Homo sapiens: one gene and its partners. The protein of the gene in region 2 purifies or fractionates together with the protein of the main gene of each other region. This does not show direct contact. Each region holds a gene or a part of one and is shown on either strand. Other genes may lie near its edges.

Evidence for each region. Proteins that work in one complex are often made in the same cells at the same time.
Region 1: the proteins of YY1AP1 (region 2) and ZMYM4 purify together in Homo sapiens (affinity purification with mass spectrometry; 2 studies listed by BioGRID and IntAct, with this or other methods). This does not show direct contact.
Region 3: the proteins of YY1AP1 (region 2) and CEBPZ purify together in Homo sapiens (affinity purification with mass spectrometry; 2 studies listed by BioGRID and IntAct, with this or other methods). This does not show direct contact.

What each region holds. Positions count from the first base shown.
Region 1 is NC_000001.11:35,355,709-35,362,708, reverse strand, and holds part of ZMYM4 (zinc finger MYM-type protein 4), read right to left. Parts: intron 3,888-7,000; exon of another isoform or gene 3,785-3,887; coding exon 3,263-3,784; intron 3,108-3,262; exon of another isoform or gene 2,932-3,107; intron 1,516-2,931; coding exon 1,454-1,515; intron 1,091-1,453; coding exon 920-1,090; intron 519-919; exon of another isoform or gene 443-518; intron 1-442. UniProt on the Homo sapiens protein: Plays a role in the regulation of cell morphology and cytoskeletal organization.
Region 2 is NC_000001.11:155,671,775-155,678,886, forward strand, and holds part of YY1AP1 (YY1-associated protein 1), read right to left. Parts: intron 4,973-7,112; coding exon 4,774-4,972; intron 3,323-4,773; coding exon 3,236-3,322; intron 958-3,235; coding exon 786-957; intron 1-785. UniProt on the Homo sapiens protein: Associates with the INO80 chromatin remodeling complex, which is responsible for transcriptional regulation, DNA repair, and replication. Enhances transcription activation by YY1. Plays a role in cell cycle regulation.
Region 3 is NC_000002.12:37,214,597-37,221,596, forward strand, and holds part of CEBPZ (CCAAT/enhancer-binding protein zeta), read right to left. Parts: intron 5,878-7,000; coding exon 5,789-5,877; intron 2,442-5,788; coding exon 2,388-2,441; intron 1,823-2,387; coding exon 1,720-1,822; intron 1,613-1,719; coding exon 1,544-1,612; exon of another isoform or gene 725-1,543; intron 357-724; coding exon 290-356; intron 1-289. UniProt on the Homo sapiens protein: Stimulates transcription from the HSP70 promoter.

The sequences.
Region 1 (7,000 bases), about 120 Mb from region 2:
GAAAAAACAAAAAGAAAGAAAAGAAAAAGAAAGCACTTCCACAGAAGTCTGACAGTCTCAAACCTTCTAATATAAACAGAAAGATAGGAAAATATAAGCTTCCCCCAGATTAAATGTCATTTCAGAAAAAGAGCCAATTCATACCATCTTTACAAAACACAGATACCCTCAAATAATTGCTGCTATTGCATATTCGTCCCTTGGACCCCTTCTTGCACTTCAAAATGATTGCAGCATCTGATATAACTTTTTTCTTCTATTCCAACAACAGCAACATCATTAACTGCATGGATAGCTTAGCTGACTTCAGGACCTCACAGTTTTAAGATCTCTATGATTTTATCTCCAGAGCAACCTTGAAATAGCAGAGCTCTACCTTCACTCTTATTACTCACAGATCTCAAACTTGGAATCATGTATCATTCATCAAAGCCTCCTTTACCTTCTATCCACTAATCCAATGAACTGGTTCTTCAATCAATTAACCCTTCCAAAGATGATCTGTCCATTAACCCCTCCTGAAAAATATTTAAATCCATATATAGCCTGTACTTCATTAGCATTAACTGCAAAAGGCTTACTATCCTACATAAACTTGATTGCACCACAAACTTATAAACTACCATAAATCTTCAACCATATCTGCTGTATAGTTCTCAAAGCCTTGCGCTAAAATGCATTGCAAAAATCACAGTGGTATTAAGAAACAAAGATGATTAAAAGCCTTAATTACTACTCAGGAAAAGTTTCATATAGCTCGTTAATGCCTTATATGGTAATTCAAATCGCCTCAACCTTCTTTAAGAGTTTCCTTTCACCCTGTCAACAAACTATTTCACTTCTTAAGCACTTCCTCTCTCAAATGAATAATTCAATGTGTGGAACAAAAAGAAGGGGGGAAAAAAGGTGAAATGTTTACTTGAGCATTGTCAGGTTCATCTTTTATTTTGTCTAGTAGTCCCTGCTGTGGTGCCATTGCTTTGTCATACTCATCATCCAAAGGTTCTTCTTTAATTCTAATATTTGATGCAAAGGAATTCCCCAGTTCCGAACCAATGGATTCTTTATTGGCAAATGGGTAGCTGGAATCCTAAAACACAATATAAAGGATTAATAAATATTCAGATTTTAAAATGATTCCTCTTCAGGTTTAACACCCAAAGAAAAGCTCATTGGAAATGAAGAACTCTATGGACATTCATTAGCTTTTGGATCTTATGCCTACGCCTAAAAGTAATTGTGTTATATGTCCAAATACCAAATACAAATAAAGACCCTAAGATTTGAGGCTTTTTAGAATGTCTCCGATGATGACCTTAAACAAATATTAAGCAAATTAAAAAAAAAAAATCAGTGCTCTACCTAATACATTGTTAGAATTTAGAAACTGACATAAAGAAAACTTTGACACTTGTCACAGTTACAGCAATCTACATACACACTGAAAACTTACCCTAAAGTTTGTTTCTGGGGTTTGTGGTAAATGGGTATGTAATGTTTCTTCAACTTGATTAGCTATTGAAAGGAAAAAAAAAACAAACAAACACATGTATATGAATAACAAATCTTACAAAGAGTGACCTAAAAAGCTATCATTTGATAATCACCTCTCTTTTCCAACAAAGATGCTCGTTAGAGTGAACTGGGTCCCAAAAACACCCAAAAGGTATTTTCACTCAAAGTTCTGCACAATCTGGCCCCACCTAGCTTTTAGCCTTACCCTACATTTTTTCCTTGCTCAAACCTAAAAAAAAAAAAAAAAAAATTATTTTTGCTCTGAAAATTGCTTGCATTTGTTCTCCCCCATTTCTACTTATTCTATTCCAAGTCCCCTCTGTCTATCCTAATCTTTATACAGTTTTCCAGACTCAGCTCAGTTAAAAATTCACCTCTCCTCTATAAAACCTTCCCTGTTCACTAAGTTAAAAATCATCTCTCTTCTAAGAATCCCTAAAACACAGTTTCAGTTATTTGAAAGACATCTTTTTGAACTGCCTTATGACAAACTCTTCTACCACTGTCTTTAACTGTAAATTAAATCTTACGCTATTCAGCTGGACATTGGCACTTCTACGGCCTGACTTGTCTTGTCCATTCTACTACTAGACATTATGTTCCTTGAGAAACATGACTCTCATACCCCAAGAAGGGATATTGGAAATATATACTGAATTATAGAGAAAAATATAGTATATCCTTGCACAGACTTGTACATACTCAAAAGCTGTCTTTTTAACAATACTGGTTTGTTCTTTCTACCATACATTTCCTAGCATTGTTAGAAGAAATACAAGGACTGGTATAGAATACTTGCTTTCCTTCACAGCTATTGAACATTTATTGAAGAATTACTATTTTACTACACCAGGTTAGGCCCCAAGAATACAAAGATGAGTAAGATACAATCTGGCCCTCAACTCCTACACTAGTAGGTAAGGTAAAACAAATATAGAACTATAATACTGTGTGATAAGTACTATAAATAATGAGGCATGAAAATGCTGTGGAAATATAGATAAGGAAACCATTCTTGATGTAGAGCAGTTAGAATGATGACAGAGTAGAAGAGGTTTATGAGTTAGGCATTGTTGGATAAGAAGTACTTTCACAAGCAAATATACAGAGAGAAAATGACATGCAGGCAAATGGAATAGCAGGAGGAAAGGAAGGCATAGAAGGAAATATGTGATATATTCAAGAATGTTAACTAAAGCTAAAGTATAGGGTACACTGGGCAAAGAGGCTCAGGAGGAACCTCAAGAAACTTCTAAAACATAAATTAGAAATGTTTGGGTTTTTTTTATTAAAAAAAAACTCCCTTTCAGATAGAGGTGAGAGTTAATAAACAAAAAATTAAATTAAAATTAAAAAAATAAAATAACTCCCTAATTTGGACTAAGTGGTGAGACAGCAGTTTGAATTAGTGCTTACAGCACAAAGAAGTTAAATCCAACTTCAGGTTCCAATGTTCAACCAAAGAAAATGAACAGGTGATTCAAGTATCTTGCCTTTCTCATCAAAACATTGCAACCAGGGGAGGGAGAAATGAGGTTTAGAGCTATTTTCAACCATTTATACCATTACCAAAAGTTACTGGGAGAAATTCAGTCACTCTGCAAAGAACAAGGACAAAAGAAAAATGACAAGCTTACAATGAATTTAACCGTTCATACTTCACTTAACATCAAAAGTAATAAAAGCTATATATTATGATCGGTAATTTTTAATTGTGTTTTATGGTTCTAAGTCCAACAATTATTACCTGCTTTATCAAAAAAACTGCTTTTCAACCTTGAATCCAAATCTTTATGGGGTTTATCCAACCGTTTTTCACGTTCATAAGTTAGGTCTCTATTTTTCTCCTTTCCAGAAAATGTCTCTTTGCTGTTTTCTCTTACTAGACTAAAATCTTTCCGTATTGATTTAAAGACAGAAACCTGATCAAATTGTTTAGGAAAGTCTTTTTTTAACTTATTTTGAATTTGTATTTCATTTTCATTGTCTGATTCATGCTGTGTGACTCTTCTCTCTACTTCCAAGCTATCATCAGTATGAATTGAAGAAACAAGATTGTCCTTTGAACTAAAATCCTGTTCATCCTCATTGTCACTACCAACGACTGGAATTCCTGCAAGATCCCCAGAGTTCAAAAAATAATCATCTTCATCCAGCAATGAATTTTCAGATCCTGTTTGATTCGGCATTCCATAAGACATGCTGTCAAGGGTAGGAGTTAAGTTGTGGTCTATATCTTCAGACATTTCTGTATCCATGATACCACCACCTTAAAAAGTAAAATACTGTTTAGACAAATGATAGTGCTAAAGATGACCACAATGATAAGGTCAGTCTGGTATTTAACCAAATAAATATTTTTTCAAACAAAATACAGATATTACCATAGTATTCATTTAACACTTTGATATAGGTGTGACAGATATAACTATTCCTATCTGACAGTTAAGGAAACAAGGAGCCAAAACTTGAGAAACTACTTTAGGTTAGAAAAGAAAGCTACGTGATATAGAGAAAAGAGCACCAACTTCAGAATCAGACATATCTGTGTTGAAATCAAAGCATGATCCTGAAAATCTATGTAATCCTAAAAAGTAAACTCTCAGAGTCTATCTATACAACAGCATAATACTCACCTTGGAGATAAATTTGTGGTGAGGATTAGTGATAGTATGTACAAAAGACCTACTAACACAATGACTGACAAATAGAAGGGAATATAAAATGGTAATTATAATTATTATGGCGATTATTCAGGGAAAACTGAGATTAGCACTCAGGTCTTTGGTCTGAGTCCCATTTTCTCTGCACTAACACTAATAAACACTGACGGCAGTTAATACTTACACATAAAAATAAATTTTATCCAACCTAGAATAAAAGACTATTTACTGTTTAAAACTACTAATATATACTAATCTCTCCCATTCCAAAACAAAACAAAGCAATGCCCTCATTCATGCCCTAACCCTACAATGCCCTCATTCATCTTCCCTTCACAAACTTGTAGGAAAAAAATTCTACCTAGTTTGCTTCTACTTCATCTCTATCATTAACCCTTTGAGCTTAATACAATCAGCTCCCAACTTTCCACTGGAACTTTTCTCATTAACATCATCAATGATCTCCTAATGGTCAAAGCAAATTGACTTTTTTCAATTCCTAAATGGCATATCCCTCATGGATAAAATTCCTTTGGATTCTTTGGTACTCTTATTTCTTACTTTCCTTAATTGCCTTATAATTTATTTTATACTCTTCTTCTGTTCACATGGCTTCAATGTTAGCTTTTCTGCAAGATTCCTGTTCTCTTTACTTTTACACTCAGACTGAGCTATTTTGTTCACCTCCATAACACTTACCTTTGCTACTGACTTCCTAAGCACTTAAGCTTAGACCTTTCTTATAAGATTTCGGATGTCTATATTCAACTAGCTCCTACACGTTCTCCAACTTAGCATCTCTAAAATCAAAACTCATCATGTTCCCTCCCATTCCAAGCATATGCTTCTTATATTTCCCTCAGATGGTTAACAGATTCACCAAACCAGCAGTTGCTCAAGATTTCCCCCTGGACAAATTCTGTCAACTTTATTACTTATCTCTCTCAAATCCATCTTTTCCACTTAGCACCTAGTTCTAATACTCCACGTCTCCTCCTGGATTCTACAATACCTTCAAAGGTATACTAATTCAGTCCACATGGATACTCAGGAAGCAACCATACCCTTATAAACTCTATGCCTAAACCACATTTAATTGATACATCAGCAAACAAACTGGAACTGATAAAAATAGAGTGAGGCGAAGACTAAAAATATTAGTGGCACTGGCATCCTTGCTCTTATTTGTTCCTGAAGCCCAGTTACATCCTTCATGTGGCTGGTTCTTCAACCCTTCTCTGGATTATGGAATCCAATAAATTCCTTTTGTTAAGTTGATTTGAGTTGGATTATCTGTAATCAGGTCCCAACTGATACAGAACCCAAAGGAAAGCTTTCCTGGACCAGGCACAGTGGCTCACACCTATAATCTTAGCACTTTGGGAGGCTGAGGCCAGAGGATTGTTTGAGGCCAGGAGTTCAAGACCAGCCTGGGCAACATAGCAAAAGCCCATCTCTACAAAAAAAAATTTTGTTTTAATCAGCCAGGTGTAGTGGTACACACATGCAGTCCTAGCTACTCAGGAGGCTGAGGAAGGAGGATCACTTGAACCCAAGAGTTTGAGGCTGCAGCAAGCTATAATTGTGCCACTGCACTCCAGCCTGGGTGATGTGACAGGGCAACCCCCTGTTTCTTTCTTTTTTTTTTCTGAGCTTTGCTCAAGTTGCTCTCTTCCATAATGACATCAGAATTACCTTTCCAAAATATAAATCATTTCACATTACATCCTCCCTTGAGATTCTTCAATAGCTCCCCACTGCTTGAAGTATTCATTCATTCAGTACATATTTATTAGGAAACCACTCTGTGGTAGGTATTGCACTAGGTTCTAGGGATAAAATGATGAAAGAGATAGCTATGACTCTTCCTCCTCACAGAGCTAGAAAAAATAAACAGAAAATTAGAAACAGTATGAGGGTAAATAATGATTTGAGTCCATAATGTCAAAGGGAAGGAGATAAAAGCTTGTTTCTATCATAAGAACGTTTGCTAATAAACGTAGAGGCAATAATATAATTGGAAAAATTGTCTATACTTTCTAAAATAATCAATTGAGACAACAGATAGTAAAACAGATGCTAAAATCTTAGGAGATGTATGCTGAAGAACTTACAGGTGAGCCATCTCAACGTTTCATCATTAGTAGCTGACCACATAGCATGTGCTCTGTAATTTTTCATAAATGAAAAATTAGGTGTTTTATGTAGTCAGAACAATGAGTTCTATAGTGCATGAGAAGTCAATACTAAGAAGTAATATTGTAAGCAACTTTCCATATCACTACATTTACTTATTTATTTAGTTAGTTGGTTCATTTTTTGAGACAGGATCTGGCTCTGTCACCCAGGCTGGCGTGCAGTGGCATGATCTCAGCTTATTACAACCTCCGCCTCCAGGACTCAAGCAATCCTCCTACCTCAGCCTCTCAAGTGGCTGAGATAACAGGCGCATGCCGCCACATCTGGCTAATCTTTGTATTTTTTGTAGAGACCCAGTTTGGTCTTGAACTCCTGAGCTCAAGCAATCCGCCCACCTCAGCCTGCCAAACTGCTGGGATTACAGACATGAGCCACTGCACCCAGCCCCTTATCATTACATTTAAATTCAGGATATAGTATTTGAAGAAAAGGGTAGTCATATGGAAAAATGAGATCCCTAACTCACATCAAAAAATTTTACAGATGTATCTAAGTTTTAGGCATAAAGAAATAAAACAGTAATATTAAATAAACTACGGAAGAATTATTTTAGTAATATTAAAGAAACTATGGAAGAATTATTTTTGAGTCGCAGAGACAAGCCTTTCTAATAATGACCAAAA
Region 2 (7,112 bases):
TTTCATTACCATTTCATATAATATAGCTATTAAAGTAGTTTGGGATCTGTGTCTATGATATAGTACACTTAAATTCAACTACATTCAATGTAATGATAAGACTTAGGGATTTAAAATAGAATCCAAAGACAAACCCAAATCCAGAACAAACCACAACTAATTTGCTAAGTCAGCAAACAAATCAGAAGTAAATATTTGGCTTAAGTAAATAGCAAATATTTTCTCAAAAAATACTAAACCAATGCAAGGTAGAATCTAAACCGGCAAATTTCTTTAAAATACTGAACACGGCAAATGTACAATCTCTAATTTACGCCTAACTTGCAAGTCAACATTTCATTCAGAATGGAGATATCACCTATGCTACAATCATTATGGTAAATAAAGTTAGTTGATCTTAATGAAGAGAATAAAAAGCTAAACATGACCGAACTTTACCACCTGACTTTCATCTTTACCAGGCCCCAGTTTATCTTGATCTGATTCCTAATACTTACCCCTCATATTGCTGTAGTCCAATTCTTAGCACTGAGCCTCAGATCTCTACCTCCCATATTCCTATACTGTCCACTGCCTCCATGCCTTACCCAGGCCCGGAGATTATCATGTAATTCTAGAACTTGGATAATGAGTACAAAGGGAGGATAAAAGAGAGAAGGAAGAAATTACAAATGTCCTGTGTCCTCCATTCCTAGGCAAGTATCCTAGGAAGTTATCTATGGGATAAGATTCCCACCACCTCTCACCGCAAGTAAAAACTTAAAGCTGACACATCTGTCTCCTACCAGTCTTCTTGACAGTTTTATGAGGGCTGCAGTCAATGCTGACATGTGTGCTGAAGTCTTCAATCAGCTGCATAGCTCCCATCAAGTTACAGGGTTGGAACAGGGTCTGAAACTTGGGGTTGTACTGATGGTGAAGGGCGATGGAGCTTTGAGCAAAGGTTCCCAGCTCTTTCTGGGAAAACACGACACAAGGAAGATCTAAGACAATTCCAGACAATTAATACCAATAGCCTTCAGAATCTAAATGAGAAGCTGACCTTCCTACTACAGGATAAAAACAGGTAAAAATAATCATAAAGTCTTTCACAATAAACTACTGTTAAGATTATGCCTGAGTTCTCAGATATTCAGGGATTATATTCTTGTTTTATTTTTAAACTGTTTCTCACTAAGGAATACATGGTCTAGCTCCCGAGCTAGAATTAAGAGTCTCAAGAATGGGGACTATTACTTTAATTTAATTAATTAATTTATTTTGAGACATGGTCTCACTCTGCCGCTCAGGCTGGACTGCAGTGGCATGATCTCAGCTCACTGCAAACTCCCCCTCCCAGGCTCAAGCCATCCTCCCACTGCCTCCTGAGAAGCTGGGACTATAGGCATACACCTCCAAACCTAGCTGATTTTTGTATTTTTTGCAGAGACAGCGTTTTCCCATCTTGGCCAGGCTGATCTCGAACTCCTGGGCTCACAATCCGCCTGCCTCGGCCTCTCATAGTGCTGGGATTACAGGGATGAGTCACCTCACCCGACCAGGACCATTACTTTTAAAATTGTTTTGTCTTTTGGTCTCAGAATAATGCCTACAACCAAGTACTCCTCATCCTCCTCTGAATACAGTAAGAGATGAAGACATCCTGTTGATCACCAAGGAAGTTTTAGAATACTAGCAAATGTACTCTTCAAAATCCAAAGAAGACTTACTGAAGAAGCTGAGAGTATTATCATTACCTGTCCAAAAGTTTGAGGCAATTTTTATGAGGTAAAGTATGGTTTTGTTTTTGTGAGACAGGTTCTCACTCTGTCACCCAGGCTGGAGTGATATATAAGCACGGCTCCCTACAGTCTCAACGTCCCAGGCTCAAGTGATCCTCCTACCTCAGTCTCCCAAGTTGCTGGGACTACAGGCACTCGGCACCATCCCCAGCTAATTTTTTTATTTTTTATTTTTTTGGTAGGGATGGGGTCTTACTATGTTGCCCAGGCTGGTCTCAAACTCCTGGGCTCAAGCAATCCTCCCACCTTGACCTACCAAAGTGCTGGGACTACAGGCATGAGCCACCATACCTGGCCAAATTTCAAATTTAAAATCTCAAAATAGGCCGGGCGCGGTGGCTCACGCCTGTAATCCCAGCACTTTGGGAGGCCGAGGTGGGCGGATCACGAGGTCAGGAGATCGAGACCATCCCGGCTAAAACGGTGAAACCCCGTCTCTACTAAAAATACAAAAAATTAGCCGGGCATAGTGGCGGGTGCCTGTAGTCCCAGCTACTTGGGAGGCTGAGGCAAGAGAATGGCGTGAACCCGGGAGGCGGAGCTTGCAGTGAGCCGAGATCCCGCCACTGCACTCCAGCCTGGGCGACAGAGCGAGACTCCGTCTCAAAAAAAAAAAAAAAAAAAAAAAAAGCTCAAAATACCTCAAAACGTCATGAGCAAAACTAGCTCTACACATAAAACACTAATATTGAGCTTCATGAATGGATAATGAATTCAACATCTACATGTATATTTACTTCATTATTTAAATTAAAACAAAACAAAACAAAAAAAACACAGACCGGGTCTTACTATGTTGCCCAGGCTGTTCTTGACCACTGGGCTCAAGTGATCCTATCACCTCAGCCTCCCAAAGTGCTGGAATTACAGGTGTGAGCCACTATGCCCAGCCTCAACATCTATGAAATGAATAGCGGTACCAAAAACCTAAGAAGTCAGGGTGAATCTAAAGATGAGGAGGAGGACCCAATAAAAATATCAGAAGGACAGGCCAGGCGCAGTGGCTCATGGCTGTAATCCCAGTACTTTGGGAGGTAGAGGTGGGCAGATCACTTGAAGTCAGGAATTCGAGACCAGCCTGGCCAACATGGCAAAACCCTGTCTCTACTAAAAATACAAAAAAAATTACCCGTGGTGGTGCCCGCCTGTAGTCCCAGCTACTTGGGAGGCTGAGGCAGGAGAATCACTTGAACCCGGGAGGCAGGGGTTGCAGTGAACTGAAATTGTTCCACCGCACTCCATCCTGGGTGAAAGAGCAAGACCCTGTCTCAAAAAAGAAAAGAAAAAATTGAATACACTCTTTGTCCTTTCATGTGAATCAGTGGCTTATGTTCACTCAGCAAACATAGGAAGCCACAGCAATCAAAAATACCTGAGAGAATAACTGTGAGAAATAACCTGCCAAGCTAATTTTATATTCTAGTCTATAGAATTACGGCAATTTGGAAACTTACAAGACATATCCTGGTGCTACTGGCCTCCGGATTGAGATTGGGGTTGCAGGTGGCAAGAAGGTGGATTTGTGTCAAGAGCTGAACATGCTGGGGAGAGAAAGAAAATAATGCAGTGATATGTTATGACACTGCCATTTCAGGAGCCCAGAGATATTTTTTTTTCCCCCTGGAGACAGGGTCTTGCTCTGTCACACAGCTTGGAGTGCAGTGGTGCAACCATGACTCAATGCCCTCTCAACCACCTGTGCTCAAGCAATCTTCCCACCTCAGCCTCCCAAGTAGCTGTGACCACAATGCCTGGCTAATTTATTTTATTATTATTATTATTATTATTTTTAGACAGAGTCTCGCACTGACTTTTGGGCTGGAGTGCAATGGCGTGATCTCGGCTCACTGTAACCTCTGCCTCCCAGGTTCAAGTGATTCTCTTGCCTCAACCTCCCGAGTAGCTGGGATTACAGGTGCCCGCCGCCACACCCAGCTAATTTTTTGTTTTCGTAGAGACGGGGTTTCACCATGTTGGCCAGGCTTGCCTCAAACTCCTGACCTCATGATTCACCCGCCTTGGCCTCCCAAAGTGCTGGGATTACAGGTGTGAGCCACTGTGCCCAGCCTTATTTTTATTTTTTGTAGAGACAGAGTCTCACTATGTTGTCCAGGCTGCTTTTGAACTCCCCTGCTCAAGCAATCCTCCCACCTCAGCCTCCCAAAGTGCTGGGATTACATGTGTGAGCCACTGCACCCAGCCACCAGAGAGTCATTAACTAAGATGTTTGCAACTTTATGACACAAATTTTGCTTTCTGCAAAGAGTGTGAGAACAACGTAGGATCTTGGCATAAATTTCTCAGACATGTTCCCTTGAACAAAATGACAGAACCAGAGGAAGTTTAACCTCTAAACAGAGGAGGAACTGAGATTAGAAAAGGAAAAGGCCGGGCGCAGTGACTCACGCGTGTAATCCCAGCACTCTGGGAGGCCGAGGCGGGTGGATCACGAGGTTAGGAGATCGAGACCATCCTGGCTAACACAGTGAACCCTGTCTCTACTAAAAATACAAAAAATTAGCTGGGTGTGGTGGCGAGTCCCTGTAGTCACAGCTACTCGGGAGGCTGAGGCAGGAGAATGGCGTGAACCCGGGAGGCAGAGCTTGCAGTGAGCTGAGATTGAGCCACTGCACTCCAGCCTGGGTGACAGAGCGAGACTACGTCTCAAAAAAAAAAGAAAAAAGAAAAGGGAAAAGGGAAAAAAAACTACTTGTCACAGTGAAGGTTAAATTTCAGAATAGATTACTGAGGACTCTTTGAAATCTGTAATTCCGAATACCATTAGGGTCCTTATGTGCTGTCTTCCCTGAGCCACAGGACATGAACATGATGACTTCTCAAGCTCCTAACTGATGTGAAGATACTACGGTTTTAATACGTAGTAAGGTAACTATCTCTGACATTTACAAAGCTGCTAATTTTAGATTATACCAAAGCCTCAGAGTTAGGCCTTGGTATAATTCAATATTAATATGACCAAGGAAAGTGTTACCTGCTGCATCTGCTGCTGGAGTCTCTTCCTTTGTGCTGGGTCCAGAATCAGGGTCTGATGAACTTCCTTACACTGGGGTTTAACCTTCTCTACCTCCTTCTGCTGTTTGGCTGAAGGTTTCTTCATCTTCAGCTGTTCAAATAGTTCCTTCGCTATCTGATGTTGTTCATTTAGTAGGTTGGCCAGTAGTTCCTCAAACCTATCCCAAACGGGGATGACTGAATTTGAGTGTTTTCCTAGGTCCACAACACATCCAATTCTTTGCAATGATGAGCAAAGAGCCTGAACAATTTTCATTCCCTACTAATCCCCCCTTTTCACTTTAGCCAACAGTCAAACTCCCAGCCTTACACAAATCTTTTCCCAAAGTAGTTAGCATGCATCAAATGATTCTGTATTACACCCCATCCCATTCCTCTACAATTCCTCTTCCAAATAATATACAAATGAAGAAAAAATTAAACAAAAAACTAGGGACAGAGAAATATATGGGTAAGAAAGCAGCCAAGGAGCTGGTGGGAACTCATCATTCTCATTTCTTCTCTCATTACTTGTTACTCCCTGGGATGTTACTCCCATCCCAGGTCCAGCTTGTCCCATTATCCTATCTACTCAGGCTGCACTGCCCTGCTTTCTTAACAAGTCAAAGACTTTCTAGCATGAAGCAGGAAAAGGATATACCAAAATAACTGAAGTACATGGTAGTTCAAATGAACAGAACGGAGAAGTTAGTTAAAATATTATCCATGAAGGCTATCTTCTTTTAGCCCTTTAAATTCCTCTTCCAAGGTTCCTAACCCTAACTTCCCATCCATACCCTCCTGAAAGATTGTTTGCAGGGCTGAAGCAAAAATTCCAATACCTAGCATGTCAGTTCTATGTATGATTACTATACCTTTTCTATGTTTACATAGAAAGAAATAAAGGGAGAATAATATACCTAAATGATTAAGCATATGCTGATACCCTATGCAACAGGATAAGATCTGCTGAAGTAGCTATAACAAGCAGGTTATCATATTTCAAGGAACCCCCTATATTACAGCAATAGTTAAATGGTAACGTTTTTCAATAGTTTTTGCAGATAAAGATTACGTTTGAATAAGTTTTCTTTTATAGTATTTACTGTAGGTTTGGGTAGCACAGAGTAAAAACCTGAAGACCGTGGGACTGTCTATACAATCTTTACTGAGAACTGAAAATTTGAACATCCGCGCTACCACCACTGAAGGAACAGAAGAGAAGAAGCATAAAAAAGTAGAAAATGGAAACATAGCCTGCACTTAGTTTTAACAAGGATTATTTAGGTAATTGATAAGGGAAGCCCCAGAGTTTTTGTTTTGACTGTCTTTTTCTCCTCTCTCTTCCTTATTGTGTTTTAAGATGTGCTTACTCTCTATGGACTTACAGAGGGATTTTTATTTAGTCAAAGATTAAAACAAAAACAGGTTTGTATTTGCAATCGAAAGAGAAGCAGAAGCTGCCCAAGTACAGTCATGCGCCACAGAATGTTTCAGTCAATAACGAACCACATAGTCAGAGGTGGCTCCATAAGATTACTGTACCTTTTCTATGTTTACATACATATGTACTTACCATTGTGTTACAACTGCCTACAGTATTCAGTACAGTACAGTAACACACTGTACAGGTTTTGTAGCCTGGGAGCAATAGGTATGCAGTAGGCTAAACCATTTAGGTTTATGTAAGTACATTCTACGATGTTTACACAATGATGAATCGTTTAATGATAGATTTCACAGAGGGTATGACCATGAGATGATATATGACTATATTCCATTGAATACCAGAAGGTAACTGGATTCTAACAGGAATTTTAAATTAGTTCTATATTTTCCAAATTTTAAGAAGTTATAAAGAGTTGATCAGCAAAACCAAAATATTTATTAATCAGATCCTATTATACGTTCCCAGGATGAATGGTTCCATTCTGCTATACCAGAATTTTGTTCTATGAACTATAAATTAAAATAATGGGTCAAATACTGACTTAGCAATCTTGAGATTTTTGATGTAGTTGTATTGTGATATTTGTTGTAATGGAGAATGACTAGTAGTTCTAGTTTTTAAGACATTGGTTGGCCTATCTTATCTTTTTTCACTAAATTGGAAAATCCCTAAAGGTCTAGCTTTCAGATGGAACCCAAGCTCTCTGCTTAGTAGTGCTGTTAAGTTCAAACACAGGACTAATTACAGGGACTATTCTCTTTGCTTTGTTCCACTTATGGCACAAACTGCATCCTGACCTCTCGCCATCGACCTAATGATTATATGCTGCTACAACAGAATAAAGTGCAGATGCAAATCCACCACAAAAT
Region 3 (7,000 bases), on a different chromosome or scaffold from region 2:
AATTTACTTTAGTTTTACTAAGATATATTAAGATTAGCAAAATGACGGATTTGTAAATTTTCTTAACAAACACAGACATATCCTTTGATCTTTTCAAAATATGCTGATTAGATTTCATAAAATGAAGCATTTAAAACTAAGGCCACTTCTCCCACTAATGTTCCATGGTCTATTTACACACAGTAGTAGATTATTGAAGTAGATTATTTCATAAAATGAAGCATTTTATGAAATCTAAAAATTTAAATTTTAGCAGTTTCCCCAAATGAAACTATATTATGTATAGTACCTGTGGAAAAACACTTCATCCACTGGTATTTGGCTTTCTTCTTTTGCAAGGAACTCCTTACTGTTCACTACAAAAATAAATTTAAACATTTTAACTTCATATAGCAATCCCCTTTATGTTACTCAAGCTCTTAAGACAAAATACAGCATAATCTGTAATTCTAAAAATCTCAGAATTGTGTGGGAAGGTAGACAGAAGGGACTCTGGAGTGCAAGGGACAATCTCTGAAAAAGTCTGTGTGAAGACCCCCCCAACATTTGAAACTTCACTGGCTACAGCATAAAGTAGGCAGTACATAGCTGTCAGTGCCGTTACAGTGAAACAACAGGGTTCTCTTACTGTTCTTCATTTGCATCCAGGACCCAACTTTCAAGAGAAATAAAAAATTCAAAGAGTTATTTTAATAAATAATCACTTTAAACTTGTCATTTTCAGCTCAAAAAATGACAAGCTTGCCATTAATGCGTGCCATTCTGGGAATAAACAGGAAGTTAACAGAGTTTTCCTTTATACTGAGGAAAACTAAGAAATAAGGAACTACAAGAAATCAGTTTTACCTCTTCAGAATAAAAATTGCTGACTCATCCTGAGTAAAAGGAGATTTGGCTTTTAATTCTAACTTACTAACTGTGGGTAAGTCCTTTTACATCTCTGGACCTCTGTGAAGTAAGTCACTGGAAATTAAATGATCTATAAGGTCTAATTTAATCCTGGTCTCTGAACAAAAGGGAGATGAGATCTGGTATGCAAAGAAATGTCTGCTTTGAATACAACAACAGACTCAGATCCAGAAGATGGCTAGCAAATATAGAAGTAGGTTATTAAGTTTAAAATGATGCTCTGTGACAAAACCAGCTGTGGGTTTTTGTGCTGCTAAGCTGATATTAGAGAGCTTTAAGATGGTCTGAATTGTAAGCAATAATAATTATATACATAGGGGTTGTGGATGAAGCTACGGATGATAAAATGGTGACAACTGTCAAAGCTGGGTGATGGTAATGGGGAGGGGGTTCATCATACTATTTTGTTTATTTTGGATATGTTTCAAATTTGCTGTAATAAAGTTAAAAAAAAAAAAAAAAAGGCCCAGTCAGATACAGTAGATTTAAGAATACCTATTCTTGGGAAAAAAGATGGATAATGTCTTTGATGCTCAGGTTTTATTCTGATAAATTAGAACAAAGAATAATACAATTTATGCATCTTTGTCTTATATTGTCTTTTCAGTTTCAACTGTCTAAGGTTTATACTTACCAGGAAGATGACGAATATCCTTAATAAAATGTTTTCTTTTCGGCTGCATCACAACACTATCTGTGTTTTCTGAAATGTAAAATTATGACAGTATAATGCAAAACCTAGTTATAAGCTCATATTGTTTATTATGTATTAAAAATGAAAGCCAAATAATTCACTAAATAGAAGCATACCTTTGCCTTTATGGGGCTTTGGATTTCGGTATACAAATCGATCCAAAAATCTCATTAGAGTGAAATCCTGCAGTGGGTCCCCTGAATACTGAATATAGTTTCCCTGAAAAGTGGAGCGGGGATTTAAAAACTTAATTCAAATTATGTCTATGAATCCAAGTAAGAAAAAGGAAGAAAAAGATAATTTCTATTACACTGTATTGAAGATACAAATATGCAATAAATGACTCTTCAAATATCTCTCTCATGCACATTATACTTAAAAAATTAAACACACAGATACATATACATACATATTCTAGGATGTAATGTTGATTTGATGGATAGACTAATATTAATAATGCAGGCCATCTAACCATTAATCAGGAACCAAACCCTGAAGTGGCAAACACAGCAAATGGGAAAGTGAGGCAGTATTTCTCCAGGAGAGGAGCTAGAAGGTAATAAATAAATAACTGCGTGGCTTTCAATGTCTTATTGCTTCCACTCATCTCAGAGTGGGAAAAGTTATCTGCTACTCTGTATGAAACAAGTCACTGCTTCTTTATACGAGCAGTAAAATGTACAAGATTCTCTCTGTTAGAGAAAACACTGTATGACCAATTATTGATTATCTAAAATGATACTTTTTTTCTTATTTCTCATCTTTGGATTTATTTTAGACTCACCTGAAGGATGGTCTTTGCAAAAAGGGCCACGGAGGGATGAAAATGCACAGATAACTAAAAAGAAAAATGTGAATAATATCAATATTTCTAAGGTCGACTCTTAGTACATTTATAGCTTATTTAAGAAAATCGGGCTGGGTGTGGTGGCTCACACCTGTAATTCCAGCACTTTGGGAGGCTCAGGCAGGCAGATTGCTTGAGCCCAGAAGTTGAGACTGGCCTGGGCAATATGGCGAAACCCCATGTCTACAAAAAGTACAAAAATAGTCAGGGTGTGATGGTGCGCGCGTGCCTGTACTCCCAGCTACTCAGGAGGCTAAAGTGGGAGGACTGCCTGGGCCCAGGAGGTCGAGGCTGCAGTGAGCTGACATGGCACCACTGCACTCCAGCCTGGGTGACAGAGTGAGACCCTATTTCAACAACAACAAAAATGAAAATGCAAAAATTTGAAATTTAAGCCAATACATTAAAAAAGTGATTCTCAAAACATATTGGTCTCAGGACCATTTCCTACACTTAAAAACCAAAAATTCCATCAGTTTCTATTCAACAGGTTTATATCTACAGACACCTATGTTATAAAAATAAACAGAAAAATTGTAAATACTTATAGGTCCATTAAAAATAACAATAAAGCGGCCAGGCGCGGTGGCTCATGCCTGTAATCCCAGCACCTTGGGAGGCTGAGGTGGGCGGATCACGAGGTCAGGAGATCGAGACCATCCTGGCTAACATGGTGAAACCCCATCTCTACTAAAAATACAAAAAATTAGCCGGGCGTGGTGGCGGGTGCCTGTAGTCCCAGCTACTCGGGAGGCTGAGGCAGGAGAATGGTGTGAACCTGGGAGGCGGAACTTGGAGTGAGCCGAGATCGCGCCACTGCACTCTGGCCTAGGCAACAGAGCAAGACTCTGTCTCAAAAAAAAAAAACAAAAAACAAAAACAAAAACCATAAAGCTACTACATACTAGTAAGTAGCATATTTATGAAAAATAATTATGCAGCCAGGCGAGGTGGCTCATGCCTGTAATCCCAGCATTTTGGGAGGCCGAGGCGGGCGGATCACGAGGTCAGGAGATCGAGACCATCCTGGCTAACACGGTGAAACCCCGTCTCTACTAAAAATACAAAAAATTAGCCAGGCGTGGCGGTGTGCGCCTGTAGTCTCAGCTACTCGGGAGGCTGAGGCAGGAGGATGGTGTGAACCCGGGAGGCGGAGCTTGCAGTGAGCTGAGATCGCACCACCGCACTCCAGCCTGGGCGACAGAGCAAGACTCTGCCTCAAAAAAAAAAAGAAAAAAGAAAAAAAGAAAAATAATTATGCTTCAGGACGAAATATATAGCGAGTAGTATTACTTTACAGTTTTGCAAATCTCTTTAATGTCTGGCTTAACAGAAGAGAGTGGATTATTTCATCTGCTTCTGTATTCCACGTTGAAACATACAATCTGGCCTCATGTGTAGAAAATAGTCTTTCACATAGCTGTGAATTTTCTTCTTTAGTACTATACCAAAACCAAAGATTAGTTGTAATATGGAATCTGAAACCCATATTCAATTGGCTTTTGGTACTTGCTACTTAAAATTATTTGGTCTACTTTGAATCAATCATTTATTCACTCAAGAATTTGTAACATTCAGGTGGCACAGTGGCTCATGCCTGTAATCCCAGCACTTTGGGAGGCTGAGGTAGGTGGATCACCTGAAGTCAGGAGTTCGAGACCAGCCTGGACAACATGGCAAAACACTGTCTGTGCTAAAAATAAAAAAATTAGCTGGGCATGGTGGCATGCTCCTGTAATCCCAGCTACTCAGGAGGTAGAGGTTGCAGTGAGCCGAGATCGCGCCACTGCATTCCAGTATGGGTGACAGAACCTTCTCGTTTCAAAAAAAAGAATTTGTAACATTGTGCATTGGTCATTGGAAAAATACCATATGCAGTCCTTCCAAACACTGGCACATTTCGTTATACTTTACCACAACAATCACATTGTTAGAACCACTGATTTCATCAGAAAAGTTTTACAAATTGAGAAACTGTCAAGCTCAAGGTGGTGGTTACAAGATTTTTAAAACTTTAATCTTTGCTCGAAAGCTTTATTTTTGAATTTTATTGCTGACAACAAATACTGCCAGCTTTTTTGTTTCATTCATTTTCAAGAAAATATCTCCCAAATACCTAAGCCTGAATAACCAGTTTGTCAGTCTTTCATGAAAGAGCAGCTAGATGAGCTTGCAACAACTGGTAAGCACTTGTCCTTGAGACACGTGACAACCTTCATGCTTTAGGTAGGCAGCACAGGTATGTTACGCATACTTGCTATGTATGCACACGAAATACTAAAAAGACATGTTACTTTAAGGTCAAGACACTAAAATCAGTAATTCTCCCTGTGTCATCATTCTTAAGTCATACTGGCTTTTTTTTTTTTAACTGCACATATGTGGCAGTGATGAATATAATGGCTTCTGATGCAGCTTGGTGCTGTCTTTATTCAGGATAAGCTGCAGCAGTTTTACCTATCATTTCTTTTATAGTATCAGTGCCACCGTCAACACAGTGATGAAAACAAATAATGTACTGGTATTACTATGGAAAGAGCTGTGACCTGGCCGACTCACTAAAAAGGTATCAGGAACTCTTAGTGGTCTGGCCGCACTTTGAGAATAGCTGCATAAGATACTTACTGGCTTTACACAAAAAGTCACAGAAAGGTTATTAAAAATATGAATTCCTCTTACAAATTCAGAAAAGTAACTTTACTTGCAAAAAATTTTATCATAAAACTTTTCAGAGGTATCTAATAAATAAAGCAAAATTTATCCATTTTCTCAACTCTATATGCAATAATCTACCTACAAAAAGCAACAGTCATAACCCATGCATGACATCCTTATTTTACGTGCACACTTAAGATTTTCTACAAAATGAACACTTCACATAGTATCTTCCCCCAAATGTGGACTTTTAATGTTTATTAATGCTTATAATTATCATAAAAAAACAAAAACTTCAAGGCATTACATCCTCAAGGGCAAAAATATACAGCATAGGCCGGGCGCAGTGGCTCATGCCTGTAATCCCAGCACTTTGGGAGGCTGAGGCAGGCGGATCACAAGGTCAGGAGATCAAGACCATCCTGGCCAACATGGTGAAACCCCGTCTCTACTAAAAATACAAAAATTAGCTGGGCGTGGTGGTGGGCGCCTGTAATCCCAGCTACTTGGGAGGCTGAGCCAGGAGAATGGCTTGAACCCGGAAGGCGGACGTTACAGTGAGCCACAATCATGCCACTGCACTCCAGCCTGGTGACAGAGGAAGACTCTGTCTCAAAAAAAAAAAAAATATATATATATATATATAGCATAAATGAATAAAAGACAATTTGAAATTATTTTACCTTTTTGAGTTCCCAAAGACTTGTATTTTCAGCTCCACAGAACAGAGGGTTTCTACTGAATGGATCGTATTTATTTAACTGTTTCCCACCTAGGAATAACAAAAAAAATACGATTTCTCAAATGCTTTCTTCCTAGCCCAAGAGGTCATTAAAAGCACCACCATTAATATTCTCAACAGATATCTCCAACATTCTTACTTAGCCAAGCAACCTAGATTAAAAACTCTGAGCTCCCTCAAGAATTTGTCTTGGTACTTAAGCTAGCATCTGCTCTTGAATAAAGCAGAGAACATGTTTATCCCAAACACCAAAAGCTTTCTTCAAGGCCAGGTGCAGTGGCTCACACCTGTAATCACAGCACTTAGGGAGGCTGAGGCGAGTGGATCATTTGAGTTCAGGAGTTCGAGACCAGCCTGGGCAAAATGGTGAAACCCCATCTCTTACAAAAAATACAACAAAAAAACTAGCCAGGTGTGGTGGTGTGTGCCTGTAGTCCCAGCTATTCGGGAGACTGAGGTGGGAGGATCACTTGAGCCCAGGAGATGGGAGTTGCAGTGAACCAAGATCGTGCCATTGTGATCCAGCCTTCCTGACAGAGCAAGACCCTGACTCAAAAATAAGTAAGTAAAAGCTCCCTTCAAAACTTCTCCTTTGGCTGGGCACAATGGCTCATGCCTATAATCCCAGCACTTTGGGAGGCCAAGGTGGAAAGGCTGCTTGAGACCAAGAGCTCGAGACCAGCCGGTGCACAGAGTGGGATTTCGTCTCTACAAAAAACACAACTAGCCATACCTGGTGGCACGAGCCTGTAGTCCCGGCTACCTGGGAGGCTGAGGTGGGAGGATCGCTTGAGTTCAGGAGTTTGAGGCTGCAGTGAGCCATAATGGCCCACTGTACTCCAGCCTGGCCTGGGTGACATAGTGAGACCCTGTCTCAAAAAAAACAAAAACCAAACCAAAAAACCCCAAACTTCTCCCTTTCCTAAATGGCAACAAAAGGTGCCCATTTTGGGGCCAAAGAGGTGGAAACGTTAAGATGGAAATAATCTGAAGATGAACTAGGTCTAAAGTCTTTTGGAGCTTTAGAGTGCTTCAAATATTTGTCATGAAAGTATGCCCAGAAATAATTCTCACTTGGAACAGGTCTGACATTATCTTCATGTTTTTAGAAACTCAGGATTAAAAAAATTTAAAACAAAGATTTTTCAGAACA